2 separate regions of the Homo sapiens genome follow, and region 2 is linked to region 1. A link means that fine-mapping ties the variant in region 1 to the plasma level of a protein whose gene starts in the linked region. Region 1 holds a variant in brackets. A gene starts in the other region. All regions are shown on their reverse strands. Region 1 overlaps PCSK6 (proprotein convertase subtilisin/kexin type 6). Region 2 holds the start of FNDC1 (fibronectin type III domain containing 1).

Evidence for each region. PIP is the posterior inclusion probability: the model's chance that the variant is causal. The UK Biobank Pharma Proteomics Project read protein levels with antibody pairs (Olink). The fine-mapping took linkage between variants from a reference panel, not from the people measured, so its PIPs are less certain.
Region 2: FNDC1 starts here. The variant in region 1 is fine-mapped to the plasma level of the FNDC1 protein (UK Biobank, PIP 0.96).

The regions. Positions count from the first base shown.
Region 1 is chr15:101,450,273-101,453,171 of GRCh38, reverse strand. The region is part of intron 1 of PCSK6 (proprotein convertase subtilisin/kexin type 6); the gene reads left to right. Among named protein-coding and RNA genes, the nearest start is that of PCSK6, 38 kb to the left of the region's middle. RefSeq lists enhancers at 114-408, 1,425-2,158. The variant A/G (reference allele first, on the strand shown) is at 1,604.
Region 2 is chr6:159,167,601-159,170,499 of GRCh38, reverse strand. FNDC1 (fibronectin type III domain containing 1) reads right to left here and starts at 1,100. Exons shown (of 23, transcript NM_032532.3): 1 at 795-1,100. The coding sequence starts at 903. It overlaps FNDC1-AS1 (FNDC1 antisense RNA 1), which reads left to right and starts at 493. Exons shown (of 4, transcript NR_121668.1): 1 at 493-688; 2 at 1,739-1,967. RefSeq lists an enhancer at 1-245 and a silencer at 1,052-1,221.

The sequences.
Region 1 (2,899 bases):
ATGGGAGGAAGGAATGGGGCAGCTCTGAGAAGCAGTCTGTCGCCGCTTCTCAGCATGGGGTTAGAGAAAGAGTTTTGTCTTCAGTTTAGACCATACATTCTTTAAGCTTTATTTGGGAAAGGGGCTAAAAGGTCTGGTTACCTTGTTTTATTACAATTAAAAATTTCTTTTACAATTTTTTGAAACAATCACAAACTTACAGAAAAATTGAATGCACAGGGCAAAGCTCAACTGACCCAGCGCAGAGAACCTGGTGACCCCGGCCCCGCCAGCCCCAGTGCTCCAGTGTGTCCTTTGCATAAACAAGGACTGTGTCTGCAGAGCCGTGCAGCACAGCCATGGACACCGGGGAATTCCACCGGTCTTTATCAGTTGTAAGGGCCCCTAATGTAGTAACATGTTCCATCTGTGCTCTGTGGGTAACCAATCTGCCATGTCCTGTGTCTTCACTTTCCCTGAGTGGGCAGCCTGGTTATCTGCCTGGACTGACATCTGGAGTAGCCTGTTCCCACCCGTAGCCCCACGGGCTCGATTCCACGTTCCCCCATGTGAGCGCCCTCCTCACCTTCTGAGTTGCAGCAGTGCCTTGTTCTGGGCCACCCCGGATCTTCCCACCCCACACACACCATGTTCTTCCCCATATGATGACTTTAGACTGGAATTTTTCAGGAAAAAGAAGAGTTTTACAGCTTATCTTAAAATTAAAACAAAACAAAACAAAAATGAATACTCAAGAGGCATTGGATTTAGGAATCCGGTAAAACAACTAATTCCAGACAGCCGTAAAGAAACCTGCAACCAGGAAATGATTTAAAATGGAGATCTTCAAAGTCAGGATTGTAGTTTTTTCAGGTAGCTTTTTGTAGACCTTGAAAATATAGGCCGAGACCACATGTAGAAATTAAACGTTCTCATCCGAAGCCGGACCATTTGGTTTGGCGACTTAAGGGAAGAGAAAAATGAAGTTTGCTAAGTAAGAATTAATGATTTCTCAGGAATTTTTAGGATGTTGAACAGCTTAATTGCATAGTTTGGGTGGATATGTGTTGAAGAAAGTAATTTTAGGAGACTGGGAAATTGTGCAATCATCTTAACTTGGGTCAGGATTGTAATTATTGCAATAACAGAATGTTGCTATGTGTATATGTGACTGAAATGGGAAGCAGTTTTTAAAAAATGCTTTAAGAAATAACAACAAAATGTCCATTCTCTCTCTCTCTTTCTGGACTTCCTTAATTATAAATACCAGGTAATCCAGTGCTGGCTAAATATAGGTCCAGTGGTCATCTATATTTATAACGTTTTTTTCAGGCGGAAGTCACTAGAGCAATACAGAATTAATTTGGTGTGTAGGTTTTTATAGAGTCTAATTAGTTGTGTTTTTCTTAAGCAAACCAACCGGGATCAATAACATTATATAACTGAACTCGGACGACCATGACTTTTAGACATAGACTCTTCCCAGAAAGCCAAGGCCCTCGGCAGATGCCGGCCCTGAAGACAGACAAGCGGCTCCGGAAGCAGGCACGCTGCAGCTGCGGAGCGGACGGGGTTTGGAACATCTGTTTCCAGCCAAGGGCAGGCTTTGGGAGTGATAAAGTAC[A/G]GTTTTTTTTTGCAAAGTCAGAAGCCTCATCTGCAGTCCATTCATCACTGAGGCCTTGAATTGAGACATTCTGTGGCTGCTTATCAGCTGTTCCCGTGTGGAAGGGTTTGGCTGGGCTGGCCTGGGGAGGTGGGGTGGGGATTTTGCAGACTTACCAAAGTATGCGCTTAGCCGACCCACCCCCACCAACAACGCAGCCTGCTCGAGGGCTACGAACTGCACCTGTGTCTGCAGTCACGTCCATTGGAGAGCTGAGTGGGCGGGTGGACCTTTGGAACTATTTGATGTCATTTGGGGTAGATTCGGCGTGCTTCTCGGTGACTTTGCTGCAAATTAAACATGTAAAGTAGATTGGGCTTTCCTCCTCCATTCCTCAGGATCTTCAAAAAACATTTAGTCTTTTCTGGCAGAGTGAACCCGAGCTGGCAGCGCCCACTGAGATTTTGTTTGAAGCCAGCTACATTCACATTTAAAGAAACGACATGATGGGGGAGGCCCTTTCTGTAAACCCCAAGCCAGGCCTTTCCCCTCGTGAGGGTTCCTACCCCTCCCTTGTGTGGCCCTGCAAGCCGCTTCTGCTTGTCCACACCTGCGCCCGAGAGTTCTTCTCATGGCTGGTGCGTGCCATGAATGAAGGGCACTGGCCAGTGGAAGGGAGTGCCCGGCCAGGCCTTGCCTGCCTCAAGTCCTCAGACCAGAGAGGCCAGTGGGGGTCTTGCCCAGACCATACAGCCGGGAGGTGGTCTGCCTGGCTCCATAGCCTCCTCCCGACCTCACAGCTGTCCTGGGACGGGGACTGAGAGAGAGCTCAAAGACAGGACAGCAGAGCCCGGGCCAGAAGGCACTGGGGGCATGCTCACCCCACCTCTGGATGCGGGGCCTCACTGGACAGCTGGACACAGATGGGATGGGGGGAGACCTGTGTATCCTCCCAATGTCATTTGGAGACAGAAGTCTGTTCATTTCATCAGGCAGATTTCAAGCTCCTCTGTGTTCCAGACACAGCCAGGCCCTGAGAATTGACAGACAACATAGCTCCTGCCCTTGAAGGCTTATGGTGGAGGGAGGGAGGACAAAGGGTGTCATAGCCATGTCTGGGCATACAGGGCCTGGGAGGCCTGAGAGGGCTTCCTGGAGTCAGTGACAGCCGAGGGGATGGTTAAAAGCAGAGTAGGAGTTGAGGGGACTTGAGCGAGCACAGGGGTGTGAAACGGTGTGTGAGGGCAGGGCCCCTTACACTGGATGACAGAGGGCAGTGTGGGCAGGGCCAGGCCTGTGGCTGGAGAGGGGTCCTGG
Region 2 (2,899 bases), not on the chromosome of region 1:
TGAAAACCTCGCCACAAACTTGTCTCTCTCTGCAGGAAGCTTGCAAGAAATCTGACAGGAGCGCGCTAGCATTTTCTGAAAAGCATTGCTCTCAAAGGAAGCATCCATCCTGGCTGCAGCCTCAGCCATTGGGGAAGGGCGAGTTTCTCTGGAATCAGCTTTCTCATTTCCCTCTCCCTCCTCTCAAGACAAACATTTTCTCCCAGCTTGAACGTTCCCCCCGGGCGCGCGGGCCTCCTGCCGCCTGGAGCCGAGCTGGCACTGGAGCGCTTCTCCTCTGGAGCGCAGAGGCACCCGACGCCCTGCGGCAGCTCGCAGCCTTTCCCCCACGACCTTCTAGAACAGCCCTGCTCTGCCTCCCTCCGGTCTCCCGAGTGCGCCCGTCATCCTGCCTCGCGAGAGGTGAACGCGGAGAAAGTAGGATGACCACCTACGCTCCCGAGAAATTCTGGGCAAAGAAAGGCATTACCCCAGTCCGCACGCTGAAAGTCGCCTTTCTTTTCCTTTTTTCCCCGCTGTGCCTGAATCTCCCGGGACACTTAGACGGCTGGAGCCTCCCGACTCCAAGGCGGGCGACGGCAAAGTTAAACGCCAGCGCGCTGCGGTCCCCGGGCACCGAGGCGTCCCCGCTCCCGCCACCCACACAGGGCGCCAAGTGCCCCGACCCGCGAGTGACGAGGACGCACAGGCTAGTGACACGACCCGTAGCCAGCACTGAGCGGGACGACGGGGCCCGAGCGCAGGAGGGTGCGCGGGGAGCTGAGGAGCGCCGGGGGCCCGGGCGCGGCGCGTACCTGAGGCCGCCGCCGAGGAGGCGACGGGGAGCAGCGCGGCCAAGAGCAGCAGCGCCGCCCAGGACAGCCGGCGCGGCGCGCGCAGGGTCGCCCCGGCCTCGGGGGCCATCGAGAGCCCGGGGTGGGCCGGGGCTGGGTGCTTGCGGCTGGCAGGGGGGCGCTGGCCGGAGTCTGGGGAGTGCCGAGGCGCCGCCGTCGGGTCCCCGCCGCCGTCCGTCTGTTCTGCGCGCTCTGCGCGGTGCCCGCCGCGCCCCTGCCCCGCGGCGATCGCTCCCGGCCGCACACCGGCAGCCGCGCTCCGCCACTGAGGCCGCCGACCTCCCGCCGAGCCTTTTAGCTGCGCTCGGGCGCCCCCTGCCGGTGTGCGGGGCCGGGGCCAGGGCCGGCGGGGGCGACCCGGGCGACAGGGGCGACGGGGGCGGCGGGGCCCGGGCTGGAGGCGGGCGGGGCGCGGGACGAAGGGGCCGGAGCGCCCCGGACTGACTTAGCGGTTCTGAACTTGGGGCGGTCGCTGTGCCGGGCCAAGTGGCTGAGGAAGTTCCTCCCCTCGTCTAACCCTCTCATTTTCTGGCTGGGGAAGTCGCCCATCGCGCCGAGGAGTGCCCTTTGTCCCCTTACAGAAACACCTCTGCGCCCCAAGTGGGGACTCGGGCCGGGACCCCTCACCCGGTCCGCAGCGCTGTAGTTCCTGTGGCTAGCCCAGTCCTTCCACGTCCCTACCCGCACCCGGCGCGCCCACGTCAGGGGTTTTCAGCGTCCTTAGACCCTGCTCCGTCTGGCTGTCATTTCTAGGGCGCGCACGATGCGGGTCGAAAAGGAACCCAGTTTTCAGTGTGCCTTGTTGCCCAGGCCAAGGACTCAGCGGACCTCGCCTCTCCCTTTTCTGTAATTGTAACACTGCCCCAGGTCTCCCTATTCCTCCTTCTCCCTATTCCTCCTTCCAGCCTGGAAGCCTCGCGGCCCTCCAGATGGACTCGGAGCGCCCCTGGAGGCTACAGTGACCTAAGCTCTAGGAAGGCCGGGTCCTGGACGCCGCGTGCTGCTGTCCGCCGCCGACCGGTGTCCTCGCAGAGATAACCTGGCTGAACTCACCGCCCAGCGCTATGTCAGTTCTCCCTCATGACAACCCAAAACTTGACCGGATTTGTGTTCTGCAGAGAGGAAAAAAAAAAGGTAAATGAATTGCAAAGAGATGAAAACCAGAAATACAGTATCTCTTTGAATTTGAGCACCCAGGAAAGGTGTAAACCTACCGCCTTCCTTTCCAGGAAACTCTCCTGCTTCCCAGCAAAGGTTTTTGTTTGTTTGTTTTTCTTTTTCTTTTTGTTTTGAGACAGGGTCTCCCTCTGCCTCTGCCGCCCAGGCTGGAGTGCAGTGGTGCAGTCTTGGCTCACTGCAACCACCATATCCCAGGCTCAAGCCATTCTCCTGCCTCAGCCTCCTAAGTGGCTGGGACTACAGGTTTCAGCCACCATGCCCAGCTCATTTTTGTATGTTTTGTAGAGACAGGGTTTCCCCACGTTGCCCAGGCTGGTCTCCAACTCCTGAGCTCAAGCAATCCGCCCACCTTGGCCTCCCAAAGTGCTGGGATTACAGGCGTGAGCCACCACGCCCAGCCCAAACACACTTTCCTGCATTACTCCCTTATGTTATCATGTTTCCCCACATGCCATTTAATGGAGCTGTGTGGTTTCTGTCTCACCAGCAGCCACCCGGCTCTGCCTATTTTGGGGGAATGGTAGCTCCCTCCCCAACTCCAACCAAGTGACAGGCCCCCTCCTTACTCCCACTCCTTCCCAAAGCCCCACTTCCCCACTGGCTCAGGGCTCTGCAGTGGCCTAGACAGGGTCACTCAGAGTTGGGACTCTTCTAACACGGGCTGGTGGAAAGGTCTCTTTCTCCCATCATTCGTGGATTTGGAAGGATGGTAGCCATGGCAGGCTGAAACACAGCCTTCCTCCCCAAAAAGACATTCCTGTCCTAGTCCCTGACCCTGTGAATGTCACCTTACATGGTTTATTAAAAAGCAATTAAGCATGCTGAGACAGAGAGATTATCGTGGATTATCTGGGTGGGCCCTAATGCAGTCATGTATGTAACTTATA